2 separate regions of the Homo sapiens genome follow, and region 1 is linked to region 2. The links come from fine-mapping of genetic effects on gene expression. Tissue or cell type: whole blood. Region 2 holds a variant in brackets; the other region holds the start of a gene. All regions are shown on one strand. Distances are from middle to middle.

Evidence for each region. PIP is the estimated chance that this variant, and not a neighbour inherited with it, causes the effect.
Region 1: NUDT18 starts here. The variant in region 2 is fine-mapped to the expression of NUDT18 in whole blood (TOPMed, PIP above 0.99).

The regions. Positions count from the first base shown.
Region 1 is chr8:22,105,039-22,113,093 of GRCh38, reverse strand. NUDT18 (nudix hydrolase 18) reads left to right here and starts at 3,675. Exons shown (of 3, transcript NM_024815.4): 1 at 3,675-3,955; 2 at 4,748-4,961; 3 at 5,199-6,216. The coding sequence starts at 3,794. The coding sequence ends at 5,794. RefSeq lists enhancers at 649-1,148, 4,561-5,334, 5,731-5,875, silencers at 840-1,205, 3,322-4,101 and a cis regulatory region at 5,803.
Region 2 is chr8:22,082,247-22,090,299 of GRCh38, reverse strand. It overlaps DMTN (dematin actin binding protein), which reads right to left. Exons shown (of 16, transcript NM_001387751.1): 16 at 7,775-8,053. FHIP2B (FHF complex subunit HOOK interacting protein 2B) reads right to left here and starts at 1,150. Exons shown (of 17, transcript NM_022749.7): 1 at 1,002-1,150. The coding sequence starts at 1,046. RefSeq lists enhancers at 271-410, 3,510-4,119 and silencers at 631-730, 921-980, 1,041-1,260. The variant C/A (reference allele first, on the strand shown) is at 3,472.

The sequences.
Region 1 (8,055 bases), 23 kb before region 2:
CAAGCAATGTGCCCACCTTGGCCTTCCAAAGTTCTGGGATTACAAGCGTGATCCACCATGCCCCACTTCATCTTCTGTAGCCATGTCCTGATGTCACCTCAGAACCCCAAATCTGGAGTATTTCCTGTGGGAAGATGGTTCTCTGAATTTTACCCATTGGGGTGGGAACAGTGCACCACTAAACCTCTGTCTTCCCCTCAAGACCTTATCTCCTCTTAACCGCCTCTGGCCTTCCAGGTGGGTCACAATGCCCTTGAGGACATATTTGGTCTCTTTGTAAACAGAAGTGAATCAATGTTCATTTGTTCCAGCACTGTTCCTGAGAATGCAGCCGGACCAGGTAGGGACTGACTCGGAGACTCGTCTTGGGGCACTCTGTGGCACTGTTCCTCAGAGACCCTTGGGCCTCTGCTGCTCACAGGGTCTACCAGCTGTGCTCTGCCTGCAGCCCCTCTGTCGCTCAGAAATCCCAGACATACAACCAGCCAAGCTGGAAGTGAGCGCAGGGTTGCATACCCAATGCCTTCTTTCCTTTTCTCTGATAAAATTCTCAGACTTTTTATTTTCCCTTTTTACCCAGGAGCATAGATTCGAGTTGCCCTGAATATACATGCTCAGGCTTTTTATTTTGAAATAATTTTAGATTTACAGCTGAGTCACAAAGATAGCACAGGAAGTTCCCAATTATCCTTCACCCAGCCTCCCCTATTGTGAACATCTTACATAACCATGGTGCCTTGATCAAAACTACGACATTAATATTGATACCACACTACGAACGAAGCAACAGGCCTCACCAGGATTTCACCAGTTTTTTCATGAATGCCCTTTTTCTGTTCCAGGATCCAACCATGCCTGCATTTGACAGATGGCCTGGAGGGTAGATGTGGCGTCCCCAGGGTCCCTCAGAGAGCTAGCCTGTGGCCAGCCCTCCCTCTCCCGCTGTAGCTTGGGTTCCTGCCCTCCTCACCTTCCTACCTTGTCAAGACACAGGCCTTGTTGCTCTGTCCATGGCTCTAGCATCACAGATGCCCTGATACAACCTTGCCCTGCCTGTCCCTATCCCCATCCCCATCCCCATGGTCGCCTACCCAGGCCTTCCTGCTCCTGTGCTCCCCCCATCCCACCCCCACCGCACATGCGCACATATGCCCTGAAACGGCTGGCTCTGGCTTGGCTCCCAAGGGTGCTGGGAGCATTAAGCTACTCCCATTCACCATACTGTGCGGCCCGCCACACTGGCCAGGGTTCTTCCCTCTCTGTGACTGGAGGACACACAGTTGACTTGATGGGGACACTGGTGGTTCCTATCTAGCCTCCCGTCCTCCCTCAGCTGCCTCCCTTGTCTCAGGGCCTCTCCAGCCTCTGTCTCACTGCTGTTCTCTCCCAAGGCCTTGGGAACTCCTGCCTCTTTGTTGTCTCAGCACTCCCTTCACAGTTTACAAGAGGCTTTGGGGGAGGGCTTTACCCCCCGGGATAATGGGAGGCGTGGAGCCACGGTTTGCTGCGGTCTTTGCTCTCTGGGCAGTGAGGCCTTCTGTTGTTTACCTTAGGCTGCCTCTGAAGCTCCCAGATCCCTGCCTAGACATGATCTCACTCTCTCAAATCATCCCTGCGAGGCAGACAGGAGTCTGGGTCCAACTTCCCCCACTTCACAGGTGGGAAAACTGAGGGATTCACACATGTGTGTGCCGCAAGACACACACACACACACACACACACACACACACACACACACACACAGAGCAAATATGTTGACAAGTTGCTCTGCAGTCCTGGGGTCCTGTGCCTGCAGTTATTTGGAAGGTGAGAGGTCCATGATAGGGCCTGGCCCAGCGGCGTTCAGCAAGTGCCTCAAAATTCATGGGCCTTCTAGTGATATCCCACAGCCTAACACAGGGCCCTGCCTCCAGGGAGCCTGTGGTCAGTATCAGCAGGTGAGAGGAGCCTAAAGAGATGCATCCTGCGTTGCTGAAGTTCCTGAGTCCAGTTCTAAGGCAGCTCTACAGGCACATTTCGCCAGGCATGGTGGCTCATGCCTGCAACCACAGCACTTTGGAAGGCCAAGGTGGGAGGATCACTGAGGCCAGGAGTTCAAGACCAGCCTGGGCAATACAGCAAGACCCTCGTTTCTACAAAGAATTAAAAATTAAAAATTTAGCCAGGCGTGGTGGTGCACACCTGCAGTCCCAGCTACTCAGGAGTCTGAGGCAGGAGGATGACTCGAATCCAAGAGATCAAGTCTGCAGTAGGAGCTGTGATCACGCCACTGCACCTCCAATCTGAGCAACACAGTGAAACCCTGACTCTAGGGGATAACAAAAGTCACATTTCATGAGGGCAGGCCTTGCGTGTGGTAGCAAGAGCTATGGTGGAGAGGGACCACCCCTGAGGGTTGGTGGGCTGCCTGGGGACGGTGCCCAGTGCTGGACAATCCACACAGCTCCTCTCCAATTGTTGTGGCTTCCCAACACCCCTGTAAAAGAAGAATTGCTATGATCCTGCTCTACAAATAAGAAAATTGAGGCCCACAGCTCACCCAGGAGCACAGAGCAAGCCAGTCAGCAGTGGCTGGCCATCTGGCTGCAGGTCCTGAGCTTTGTCCACACCACCAAGCCACAGTCTCCCTAGCAGGGAGGCGCACAAAACTATCAGAGGCAGAGGAAAGGGGTGGCCTCTGCCAGGTGAGGAGCCAGACGGCCTGCTTCGCAGATCCCTTCCAGCTGGCTTTGCCTTCCAGTGCTGAGGTGGGGTGAAGGAGGAAAGGCCGAGCTGGGAGAGGAGCAGGCGCTCGCCACAACCACCCCCACCCTGCTCTCCACGCGCCAGGTCCTGCACGCTGGGTGGGAGGGTGACGACAAGGATGGAGGAGCAGGGCCCCACCCCCGCCCTCCCAGGGCGCACCATCTGCAGCAGAGAGGGCCTTGAGCTGCGTGGGAAATGCGGTAGGCAGAGGGACACTGATGAGGGTGGGCCGGCTGACGGCAGCCTTCTCTCAGCCCCGGACCCCTCCCGCCATCCCCAGCCCTGCCCCCTCCCTCCTTCCAGCGCCTGTCACTCTTCCTGCCCAAACCAAGCATTTAGCACTTAGCCTCGAACCCTCAGCTGACTCCTCATCTAGGACTCCGTCCATCTCTCCAACTATTGCAGAATCTCCTTCAAGGCAGGGGTTTATGTCCCCCACCCCACGGGCCATGTGACATTTATAACTCTTTGGTGGAATGAGAAGAAAGGTATTTGGGATATGATCAACTCCGGCAATGCCATTGTGTGTTTACGGCAACAGCGGGACAGTGGTTCCAGGGGGCGGCCCCGGGCCTCCGTGACGTCACCGGATTGTCGCGTCACCGTCGCCTACCCCGGCGGCGCAACGCGCCCTGCAGGAAAGATGACGTCACCGTCGGAGCTCCTGCAGACCAGTGCGCGCTCGGGGAGTTGGCGAGCGGGTGGCGGCTGGGAGACGTCCCGAGCGCACGGGACTGACAGGCGGCAGAAGCCGGGCGGGGTCCGCTGGGCTCCGGACCCGTGCCCCCCCAGTTCCAGGGCGGCCCCGGGCGGCCCCGCCCCCTCGGTGAATGCCGCGGGCCGGCCAATCCGGGCAGGCCGCGGCGCCGCGCAGCCTATCAGCGGCCAGAGCTCGCGTGCGCTTCCGCGTTCGCGTGCGCTTCCGCGTTCTCGTGAGCTCCCGGCCCGCTGCCGCAGGGACTGGGAGCGGGCTCCGCAGCGCACTCTAGCCCGCGGCTCGGCTCAGTCGGTCTGCGAGGATCCGGCCCGCCGCCCCCCGGGGGACCCGATGGCCTCGGAGGGCCTGGCGGGGGCGCTGGCTTCCGTGCTGGCTGGCCAGGGGTCCAGCGTGCACAGCTGCGACTCGGCGCCGGCCGGGGAGCCGCCGGCGCCCGTGCGGCTGCGGAAGAACGTGTGCTACGTGGTGCTGGCCGTGTTCCTCAGCGAGCAGGTGAGCGGCCGCCCCCGGGCCCGCCGGGCCTCGGGAGCGCGCAGCCAGCCCAGGTGGGGACAGAAGACCCAACGGCCACAGCCAGCGCTGCCGCGTGCGTGGCGCTTCCCAGTTTTGCAAAGCACTCCCACTCCCACTCGCATCTGTGTCCTGCGTTCGTCCCGATATGCAGAAGAGGAAACTGAGGCCCGGGGCCTGTTTGTCTCATCCGACTAGGCCTCATTCCTTCCCTTCCCCAGAGTCTAGCGGAGTGCCCAGGGCCCCTCAGATAGCAGTGGCTCAATCCCGGCTTACCTTCAGGCCTTTGGTGCTGATGCCTGTAGTGGGCGATGTAATGACAACTAGACGGGGCCAGGGCCATAGGGCGGGGTTGTACAGAGCGGAGGTGGGGGTCGTGTTTCAAGCCAGACCCCAGTGTGAGGACCCATCACAGTTTGTAAACCACGCCGTTGGAGGCGAGAGATACACAGTGGCAGGTACAGACGCAAATCAATCCAAGACAGACAGACACATGGTGACCCTCACTCTGGGGCCTCATCTCCAGCCCCTGAAGCGGCTTCCAGGAATCTCAGCCCTTCCTGAAATGGAAGTCTTCCTAAATCCAGAGAGAGACGAATTGCAGAGAGGAGAGGGCTGCAGCCCCCAGCGACACGAGGGCAGGTCTCCTGGAGCGCTAGCTGGGTTGAGAGTGTCCACCCAGAGGGGAGTCTTGGGCGACTGTGTTTGAGATGCCCCCTGGTCCCGGGGCGAGGGAAGGCTGTGGCAGGAAGTGAGGATCCTCTCTCCTCTCAGGATGAGGTGCTACTGATCCAGGAGGCCAAGAGGGAGTGCCGGGGGTCGTGGTACCTGCCTGCGGGGAGAATGGAGCCAGGGGAGACCATCGTGGAGGCGCTGCAGCGGGAGGTGAAGGAGGAGGCGGGGCTGCACTGTGAGCCCGAGACACTGCTGTCCGTGGAGGAGCGGGGCCCCTCCTGGGTCCGCTTCGTGTTCCTCGCTCGCCCCACAGGTATGGCCCACCTGGAGGCAGTGTGAACAGGGCCAGTTGACACCTTTCCCCCAGCTCCTCGGTGAGGTGAGCCCCTCTACAGCCAGTCCTGTTATGGCTGGCACAGCCTGGCATGGGCAGATTCCAGCCTTTGGGCTGGGGGCCTCTCTCCTGGGTCAGGGATGTCTGTTGACTCTGCCAGAGCTGCACTTCTCTCCACACAGACCCTCCCTGCCCCATCCCCCACATCTCCCCCAGGTGGAATTCTCAAGACTTCCAAGGAGGCCGATGCGGAGTCCCTGCAGGCTGCCTGGTACCCACGGACCTCCCTGCCCACTCCGCTGCGAGCCCATGACATCCTGCACCTGGTTGAACTAGCCGCCCAGTATCGCCAGCAAGCCAGGCACCCTCTCATTCTGCCCCAAGAGCTACCCTGTGATCTGGTCTGCCAGCGGCTCGTGGCTACCTTTACCAGCGCCCAGACAGTGTGGGTGTTAGTGGGCACAGTGGGGATGCCTCACTTGCCTGTCACTGCCTGTGGCCTCGACCCTATGGAGCAGAGGGGTGGCATGAAGATGGCCGTCCTGCGGCTGCTGCAGGAGTGTCTGACCCTGCACCACTTGGTGGTGGAGATCAAGGGGTTGCTTGGACTGCAGCACCTGGGCCGAGATCACAGTGATGGCATCTGTTTGAATGTGCTGGTGACCGTGGCTTTTCGGAGCCCAGGGATCCAGGATGAACCCCCAAAAGTTCGGGGTGAGAACTTCTCTTGGTGGAAGGTGATGGAGGAAGACCTGCAAAGCCAGCTCCTCCAGCGGCTTCAGGGATCCTCTGTTGTCCCAGTGAACAGATAGAGAGGTGGGGGAGGTGACAGGGAGCTAGGCAGCCGTGCTCCCTCCAGTGCGGACTTGTCTCCCTCTGAGGGAGGCAAGAGGCTGGCGATCAGGGATCTTGTTGCATTGGGAGCAGGGGCGGCTCTCCTGGTCCCCAGGAGAGATGCTTTGAGGAGCATTCCTCTAGATTGCACAAGGGACAGTGCCTTTAACCAAGCGAGGAGTCCAAAGCTCAGGACCTGACTACCCTGAGGGCACGCTGACGCCTCTTCCCAGGGGGATGGGGAGCTTTCTGCACCCCCAGTGGCATCTCCTCATCACGTTCTGTGCCGTCCTTGGGAAAGGCCTGCATTCTGATCCTTCCAGGCCCTTCGAGCATGGAGGGGCACTGGGGAAGGTCCCCCGAGGGAGGAGCACGTTGCTGAGTAAAGAGGTGTTACTCACCTTGCCTCCCTGCCTACACGTCTCTGTGGGGAGAAAGTGATGGGGACTACTGTCCAGGAGCTGCTGCTCCCCTCGTGTTACCCACAGGCACCCATGCCTTTCCCAGTGCACTGACAGTGCGGGCCAGTCTGCTGTCCAGCACGGCCCCTGGGGCTCCCTCCAGTTGGCCTGCTGGCCCGGGATGTGACTCTGAGGGGACCCATCCCTAATGAAACACAGCTCTGAGCCCTCCAAGGGTTGGGCAGTGGGCGGCCCCAGAGGAACTTCAAGTGGGACAGGAGCTGCAGGTGCTGCCTCTGCTCTCTCCTTGAGCCTCCCTGGCGCAGACCACTCCCCCTGGCTCTCCTGCCTCTGCCTTTTCACAACTTCAGCCCATGCCAGACCAAACCTTTTCTTCATTTCCCCTCAGCCTCGCTGAATCATGGTAGGATTTTTTTTTTTTTTTTTTTTTTTTTTTGCTAAGTGGCCGGGCACAGTGGCTCACACCTGTAATCCCAACACTTTGGTAGGCTGACACAGGTGGATCACTTGAGGTCAGGGAGTTCGAGACCAGCCTGGCCAACATGGCAAAACCCCATCTCTACTAAAAATACAAAAAACTAGCCGGGCATGTTGGCAGATGCCTGTAATCTCAGATACTTAGGAGGCTGAGGCAGGAGAATCGCTTGAACCCCGGAGGCAAAGGTTGCAGTGAGCCGAGCTCCAGCCTGGGTGATAGACTTCGTCTGAAAAAAAAAAAAAAAAAAAAAGAACTTTGGCCAGGCACGGTGGCTCACACCTTTAACCCCAGTGCTTTGGGAGGCTGAGGCAGGAGGATCGCTTGAAGGCCAGAGTTTGAAGCCAGCCTGGGCAACATAGTGAGACCCTGTGTCTACAGGAAAAAAAAAAGGCCAGGCAAGGTGGTGCACACCTGTAAATCCCAGCTATTCAGGAGGCTGAGGCAGGAGGATGGCTTGAGCCCGGGAGGTTGAGGCTGCAGTGAGCCATGCTCAGGCCACTGCACTCCAGTCTGGGTGAGACAGCAAGACCCTCTCTCAAAAGAAAAAAGAAAAGAAAGAGGAAAAAAAGAACTTTACTGAAATTTAAGCAAAATCAAAGGAAATGAACAAATAAAATATATCAAGTGTTCTACGGTAGAGATTTCTGATTCTGAGCAAGGAAACACTAGCACAGGCTCCCCTTCTGAGGGCCAAGATGACCTCCAAGGCCCCTTTCCCAGCCCCCTCCCTGCCTCTCTTGGCTGCCCTCCTTTCTGGGCCCTGGAGGGTGGTAGGAATCCTTGTACCCTCTGAGGACAAATACCTCACAAATGATGGAACCAAACCCCTTTGTTTCAGTTCACTTCTCTCAGTGTCTAAGGGACCCACTGGCCCATATCCAGTCAGCCGGGCAATGACATTTGGCTATTTGCCCCCATTATTTAGCCTAGTAGTTTCCAACCCTGGGCACACGTTAGGGTCACCTGGGTTTTTTTTTTTTTCCCTCAAACAGGGTCTTGCTCTGTCACCCAGGCTGGAGTGGAGTGGTGTGATCCTGGCTCACTGCAGCCTTGACCTCCCAGGCTCAAGTGACAAGTGATTCTCCTGCCTCAGCCTCCCAAGTAGCTGGAACCACAGGCGCATTTTTAAGCTTTTAGTAGAGATGGGGTTCTCACTATGTTGCCAAGGCTGGTCTTGAACTTCTGTCCTCAAGTGATCCTCCCGCCTCAGCCTCCCAAGGTACTAGGATTATAGGCGTGAGCCACCATGCACAACCACCTGGAGAGCTTGAACTCTGGGTGTACCCCCAGCAACAATAATTTAACTGGTGATGGGGCACTGGGCATTGGGATTTTAAAA
Region 2 (8,053 bases):
AGGGTGAAACCCAAGACTTTCTCTCCTGAGAAAATCTGATACTCAACTCATCAATTGGGGGAAGATTTATACTAGGAGGCAGAAGTATTGCTGACTTTACAGACAGCTTCTTGGCAGAGTTACTTTCAACAGCGGGCACCCCCCCCACCCTACCGGGAATACCCCCACCCTTCCTACACAGCGCTACATCTTGCTGAACGAACCCTAGTAGTAGGCTGCCTGCCAGCCTGCAGCCCCAACAAAAAATGGCAAAAACACAAACTGACGGCACGTGAAACATCAATGGACTCTCCTCCCCGCACAGGGCCACCCAGGCCCCACCACGGGCGGCATGTCCCTAACTCAATTTGGCTTGTGAGGGGTCACAGCCACGCTGGAAACATCTGCACCCAATAGAAGGCGATTTCCCCGGCTGGGGGCCCACCAGCCTGCCCCGGGTCTTTACCCTTCGTGGGGACTTGGACCGGCAGGGCCTGCACTTCCCACGTCCCGGGGTGACGGGAAGGGCGTCCTGCACCCCAACAAGGTCCTGGAGTTGTCTGGGAGATCAGACCGAGGGGAAGGGACGGCGATTTTTTCAAGCCCAGGCGAGGCGGTGGGGTGGAGCGGAGGAAGGAGGCAGGCCCACCGGGACTGGGGGGAGGCGGCCTAGGGCCCCGGGGGGCAGGAAACACCCCAAGCGGTGACAGGGAGCGTCCCGGCGGAGGCGAGTTCGGGAATTGGGAGAGACTCCGGGGCCAGGACGCACAGACAGGAAGCGACGCGGGAGCAGGCCGGGGAGGTGGGGCGGTCGGGAGGAGTCTGGGAGCGGGACTGGGAAGAGCGAGGGGAAGCGGGGCGCGGCCGGGGAGGCAGAGGAAGGGGCGCCGCGGCCCGGGGGTCCCTGCCCGAGGGGGCCCGCGCCCGCCCGCCCTCCTGCGGGCCGCGCCCGGCTCCGCGCCCGCCCAGCCCGGCCTAGGCCCGCGACTCCCGGCGGCCCGGCCCGGCCCTGCCGGCCTCACCGCCCCCACGGCTTCCTGCAGCAGCGCCCCGAGCCGGCTCAGCATGATGGCGCCCGGCCCCCGGCTCCCGGGCGAAAGCGGCGGCGGCAGCGCTCTAGGCGGAGGAGGCAGCCCCGTGGCCCCGGCGGCCCCGGCGCGACGAGGGGGGCGGGGCCCGGCCGCTCCGCCCCTTCCCGGCCCGGCTGCGTGGCGCTGGCTAACCCCGGCTGGGGGCGCCCAGTCGGGCTGGGAACCGCCAGCGGTGGGCCCTGAGAGTTGGCTGGGAGGTGTTTTTTTTTTTTTTTTTTTTCTTTCCTTTCTTCCGAGACAGGGTCTCGCTTGGTCGCCCAGGCTGGAGTGTAGTGGCGCGATCTCTGCTCATTGCAGCCTCCAACTCCTGGACTCATGCGATCCTCCAACCCCGGCCTCCAGAGTAGCTGGGTCCACAGGCGCGCGCCACCACGCCTGGCCAATTGTTTTTTTTTTTTGTTTTTTTACTGGGAGGGGAGGTCTCACTGTGCTGCCTAGGATGATCTCCAGCTCCTGGCCTCAAGCGACCCTCCCGCCAGGGCCTCCTGAGTAGCTGGGATTAAGGCGGGAGCTAAGGGAGGTGTTTTCGAAGAGAAATTACAATTCCTCCTGAATTGAAGTCTCAGTCAGCCCCAGGCACATGGGCTGATGAGCTCCTGAAATGTGCTGGTCCCAACCAAGATGTGCCGTGCCAAGCACACCCCGATTTGGAAGATACAGTAAGAAAGGAAAGTGTGAAACTGCAACAACCATGGCTTATATTGATTACATATTGAAATGACTATTAGGTGTGTTGGGTTAAATAACGTATATTGTTAAAATTAACTTCACGTGTTGCTTTTTACTTTTTTGACAGGGCTATCAGAAAATGTTTATGGGCTGTGGGCGGTGGCTCACACCTGTAATCCCAGCACTTTGGGAGGCCAAGGCGGTTTGATCACTTGAGGCCAGGAGTTTGAGACCAGCCTGGCCAACATGGTGAAAACCCGTCTCTACTAAAAATACAAAAAAATTAGCCAAGCGTGGTGGTATGTGGAGGCTAAGGTGGGAGAATCACTTGAACCCGAGAGGCAGAGGTTGCAGTGAGCCAAGATCGTGCCAGTGCACTCCAGCCCGGGCAACAGAGTGAGACCGTCTCAAAAAAAAAAAAAAAAAAAAAAAAGTCTGCAGCTGAGTGTGGTGGCTCAAGCCTGAAATCCTAGCACTTTAGGAGGCCAAGGCTGTTGACCAGCCTGGGCAACATATGAAGATCCTGTCTTGACAAAAAATAAAAATACAAAATAACCAGGTGTGGTGGTATGTGCCTGTAGTCCAAGCTGCTCGGGAGACTGAGGTGGGAGGAGGATCACTTGAACCCAGGAGTTCGAGGCTGCAATGAGCTATGATCGTGCCCCTGCAGTCCAGACTGGGTGACAGCAAAATAGTGTCTCTCTAAGAAACAAAAACCAGTGTCTCTGCTTATCACTGACATCATATTGTGTCCGGAATTGGTAGGTTCATTGGTCTCACTGACTTCAAGAATGAAGCTGTAGACCCTTGCAGGGAGTGTTACAGCTCTTAAGGTGGCACGTCTGGAGTTTGCTCTGATGTTCGGATGTGTTTGGACTTTCTTCCTTCTAGTGGGTTCGATGGTCTCGCTGGCTTAGGGGTGAAGCTGCAGACCCTCGCGGTGAGTGCTACAGCTCTTAAGGCGGCGCGTCTGGAGTTTTTAGTTCCGCCTGTTGGGTTCGTGGTCTCGCTGACTTCAGGAGTGAAGCTGCACACCTTTGCCGTCAGTGTTACAGCTCACAAAAGCAGTGGGAAACCCAAAGAACGAACAGCAGCAACTTATTGCAAAAAGTGAAAGAAAAAAACTTCCACAGTGTGGAAAGGAACCCAAGCGAGTTGCCACTGCTACCTTGGGCAGCCTGCTTTTATTCTCTTATCTGGCCCCACCCTCATCCTGCTGATTGGTAGAGCCCAGTGGTCTGTTTTGACAGGGCGCTGATTGGTGCGTTTACAATCCCTGAGCTAGACACAAAGGTTCTCCACGTCCCCATCAGATTAACTAGATGCAGAGTGTTGACACAAAGGTTCTCCAAGGCCCCACCAGAGCAGCTAGACACAGAGTGTCGATTGGTGCACTCACAAACCCTGAGCTAGACACACGGTGCTGATTGGTGTGTTTACAAACCTTGAGCTAGATACAGAGTGCCCATTGGTGTATTTACAATCCCTGGGCTAGACATAAAGGTTCTCCACGTCCCCACCAGACTCAGGAGCCCAGCTGGCTTCACCGAGTGGATCCCGCACCGGGGCTGCAGGTGGAGCTGCCTGCCAGTCCCGCGCCGTGCTCCCGCGCCGTGCGCCCGCACTCCTCAGCCCTTGGGTGGTCGATGGGACTGGGCGCCCTGGAGCAGGGGGCGGCGCTCGTCGGGGAGGCTCCGGCCGCACAGGAGCCCACGGAGCGGGTGGGAGGCTC[C/A]GGTATGGGCGGGCTTCAGGTCCCGAGCGCTGCCCCGCGGGAAGGCAGCTAAGGCCCGGTGAGAAATCGAGCGCAGCGCCGGTGGGCTGGCACTGCTGGGGGACCCAGTACACCCTCCGCAGCTGCTGGCCCGGGTGCTAAGCCCCTCATTGCCCGGGGCCTGCAGGGCCGGCCGGCTGCTCCGAGTGCGGGGCCCGCCAAGCCCAAGCCCACCCGGAACTCCAGCTGGCCCGCAATCGCCGCGCGCAGCCCCGGTTCCCGTTCGTGCCTTTCCCTCCACACCTCCCTACAAGCTGAGGGAGCCGGCTCCGGCCTTGGCCAGCCCAGAAAGGGGCTCCCAAAGTGCAGCGGTGGGCTGAAGGGCTCCTCAAGTGCCGCCAAAGTGGGAACCCAGGCAGAGGAGGCGCCGAGAGCGCTGTGAGGACTGCCAGCACGCTGTCACCTCTCAATATGACGAGAGGGAAAGGAATCAGTTTCCCTCGGGAAGGAAGAATAGCCCCTGTCAGAATTATAGAACCTAGAGTTTTGGGGTCTCGGGCTTCACAGGACCTGCCTCACCTTTTAGGACCCATTCCCCAGTGGGGCTGAGGCACAGGAAATGCTGACCTGCCCAGAGTGGGCTCTGTGCTGTGGTGTGGAGCCTGCAGTCCAGACTCTGAGCCAGGGTGGCCAGTGTCTGGGCCTCAGGCCCTGAGGAGGGCCAGGGTTCAGCCAAGCCCAGGCTGAGTGAGAATTGATTGGGACCTCAGTTCTCTGACAGGTGGGAGTTCCAATTCAGTCTCTGCAGATTTCTAGGCCCACCTCCTCACAGGTAAAGGACCCAGGCTGGATAGGTCAAATCAGCTTGCTTCCCTTCAGCATGTCTCAGAGGACTCTAGGGGATAATGAAAGTACATCAGGAGTTCATAACCTTTTATTCGACTTAACTTTTTACATGTTATTTTTAAAACTCTAATAAAAGTCAGTGTACACACTACATGTGTTATAGTCCAGAAATATCAAAGACCATGAGGTTTTATTAAATTCTGAGGCCAGGTTAGCCCATTTAGGGGAAGACCTTTGAAAAAAGCCTCTCCTATCAGCTTAAATGAAGAGTTGAAGATGATTTCACGGTAAACTGAGTTTTATGTATTCTTTTTTTTTTTTTTTTTTTGAGGAGTCTCGCTCTGTCGCCCAGGCTGGAGTGCAGTGGTACAATCTTGGTTCACTGCAAGCTCTGCCTCCTGGGTTCACGCCATTCTCCTGCCTCAGCCTCCCAAATAGCTGGGCCTACAGGTGCCCGCCACCACGCCCGGCTAATTTTTTGTATTTTTAGTAGAGACAGGGTTTCACCGTGTTAGCCAAGATGGTCTGGATCTCCTGACCTCGTGATCTGCCCACCTTGACCTCCCAAAATGCTGGGATTACAGACGTGAGCCACCACGCCCAGCCCCTATGTATTCATTTTTTTTTTTTAGATGGGGTCTTGCTATGTTTCCCAGGCTGGTCTCAAACTCTTGACCTCAAGTGATCTTCCTGCCTCAGCCTCCCGAGTAACACGGGTAAGCTGCTTTAAACATGCAAGGCATGAAGGCCAGATTCAAGGAGAAGGCCATATGGCTGGGTGCGGTGGCTCATGCCTGTAATCCCAGCACTTTGGGAGGCCAAAGCAGACAGATCACCTGAGGTAGGAGTTTGAGACCAGCCTGGCCAGCATGGTGAAAACCCCATCTCTACGAAAAATGTAAAAAATTAGCCGGGCGTGGTGGTGGGCACCTGTAGTTCCAGCTATTTGGGAGGCTGAGGCAGGAGAATCGCTTGAACTCAGGAGGTGGAGGTTGCAGTGAGTTGACATTGCACCATTGCACTCCAGCCTGGGTGACAAGAGAGAAACTCTGACTCAAAAAAAAAAAAAAAAAAAAAGCCATATAGTCAATGACTCTCAATGTGAAATAATTTGCTCATGCTTTAATTTTTTCATTTTTTATTTATTTATGTGTGTGTTGTGGGGAGGAGGCACTGAGAGGCTCTTCCTAAGGCTTTGTTTTAGGGACAAAGAGCTCCAGTCTGAGCTGCTCTAATTTTTTTTTTTTTTTAATTTTAGTAGAGATGGGTTTTCACCATGCTGGCCAGGCTGGTCTCAAACTCCTGACCTCAGGTGATCCACCTGCCTTGGCCTCCCAGAGTGCTGGGATTACAGGGGTGAGCCACCGCGCCCAGCCTTCTTTTTTTTTTTTTTTTCCATAGGTTATTGGAGAACAGGTGGTGTTTGGTTACATGAATAAGTTCTTCAGTGATGATTTGTGAGATATTGGTGCACCCATCACCCGAGCGGTATACACTGCACCCAATTTGTAGTCTTTTATCCCTCGCCCCTTTCCCACCCTTTCCCCCTGAGTCCCCAGAGTCCATCGTGGGTTTTTTGTTTGTTTTTTTGTGACAGAGTCTTGCTCTGTAGCCCAGGCTGGAGTGCAGTGGCACGACCTCGGCCTACTGCAACCTCTGCCTCCCAGGTTCAAGCGATTCTCATGCCTCAGCCTCCTGAGTAGCTCGGATTACAGGCGTGTGCCACCATGCCCAGCTAATTTTGTGTATGTTTAGTAGAGACGGGGTTTCGCCATGTTGCCCAGGCTGGTCTCAAACTTCTGAGCTTAGGCAATCCTCCCGCCTCGGCCTCCCAAAGTGCTGGGATTACAGGCTTAAGCCACTGCGCCTGGTCCCTTGTGACGTTCTTATGCCTTTGCGACCTCATAGCTTAGCTCCCACTTATGAGTGAGAACATATGATGTTTGGTTTTCCACTCCTGAGTTACTTCACTTAGAATAATAGTCTCCAGTGCCATCCAGGTTGCTGTGAATACCATTAGTTCATTCCTTTTTATGGCTGAGTAATATCCCATCATGTATATGCTCTAAATTCTCATGAATTGAAAATCCTTTGGGACCTAGGGTCAAACCTGCCCGTACTACATACAGTTCCCAAACCCTGTCTCCAGCACCCCTTAGGGTTCAATGACCTTGACATTTTCCCGAACAGCCTGGGAGCTCTTTTTGGACAACGGGCACGTCAACCTGGTCACTGCTGTGTTCCCCATGCTCAGAGCAGGGTTAAGCCCCCCAGCAGTTTCTGAATGCCTTGTATTGGGTATGTGTGCAGAGCCCATTTCTTTCTGCCCCTCCTAGTCTGCCCTCCTCTGCTTCTCCTTCACAGACAACAGTACCTATTGGGAAAGTCCTAGAAACCTGAATCCTGTCACCACTCTCCACTCATTGGTTTCCTGTAGCTCTGGGCTTCAGAGGAATTGTCTCTGTCCCACCATTTTCTCATTTGCTAAGAAGATGACAGTGATCTGTTCTGTTGACCTCATAGGTTTGCTGAAGGGATAAAATGATGTTGTGGATGCAACAGAACTCCTACAATGTAAAATAATCGTTCACATTTGAGGGGTTCTTATCCACTTTGCTTATTTCAGCCACAGGGGCTAGGAACTCAACCAGGGTACTCAGGCTAGGCCCCAGCTCCAGTCGCAGGTTCACAAGTTGCGCACCCTCCAACTCACCTGGTCCCTCTGACTGCACGCCTCTTCATGTGCCCACACATGGTTCTGCTCCAGCCAGGTGGGGCTGGCCCCTCCCCACGTAAGCACCCACACCTGCAGGCAGTCCTCCTTCTGGTCTTCCCGTCAGATCCGCAGCCCCTCTCCCACCTCCCACCCGCAACACGCAATTCCCTGTCTTTTCCCCTTGGGAGGCCTTACCAAGTCAACCAAGACCAAATTCCCATCTTCCTCCCTTGGCCTCCACTTGACTCGTCCTCCAACTGCCATTTCTCCATTCCTTAGTTTCCCCTGCCTGATTCTTGGCAATCAGCTCACCACACACTCACATCCTGCTGACCTTTTCTGTGTTCGGCCTCCCCATTGAACCATGAGCACCCTGCCCCTTGGGAGGGACAACCATGTCTGATGTTGAGCTTGGCTACCAAGGCGAGCACGTTGGGATTTGGTGGAGGGCTGGGGCAGTCTTTCCTCCCAGCCAGTTCTCTACCAGCCTCCTCCCTGAGGTGTGAGTTCCCTCTGGCCCCAAACACAAGGGTTCCTGCCCCCATCACAGAGTCCCTGAAGGAGAGGCAGACAGGCCCCTGTCTAGACAGCCCCTGCTTCTGTGGCCCAGGCTTGGGGGAAAGAGTACTGCGGGGCTGTGTCTCCAGCCCTCCAGCCCTAGGCGGCCCCTGCATTGGAACCCTTGCTCCCAGGGCTTCCCTCTGCCTGATATGGCTTGTCTCGTTCACCCAGGTCTGGTGGCTCATAAGGAAAAGACAGATGTAGGGACCCAATGCAACCTTTTAATTCCAAGCAGAGTCCCCCTCCCCCAGCATGGTCACACACACAGTGGAAAGGGATGTCAGGGTCTGGGCAGGAGCAATACCCAGACCTGGGCAAAAATATAGATATCATTATATACACACGTGGACTGGAAAGAAGTCAAGCTGGGGGTGTAAGGTAGGGCAGGGGCAGGTGAGGAAAGCAGCTGGGGGGGCCCCAATAAATTACATTCTTGAGAGAGCATAGTGTGTGGGGGGGTGCGTGGGTGTAGGTGAGAGC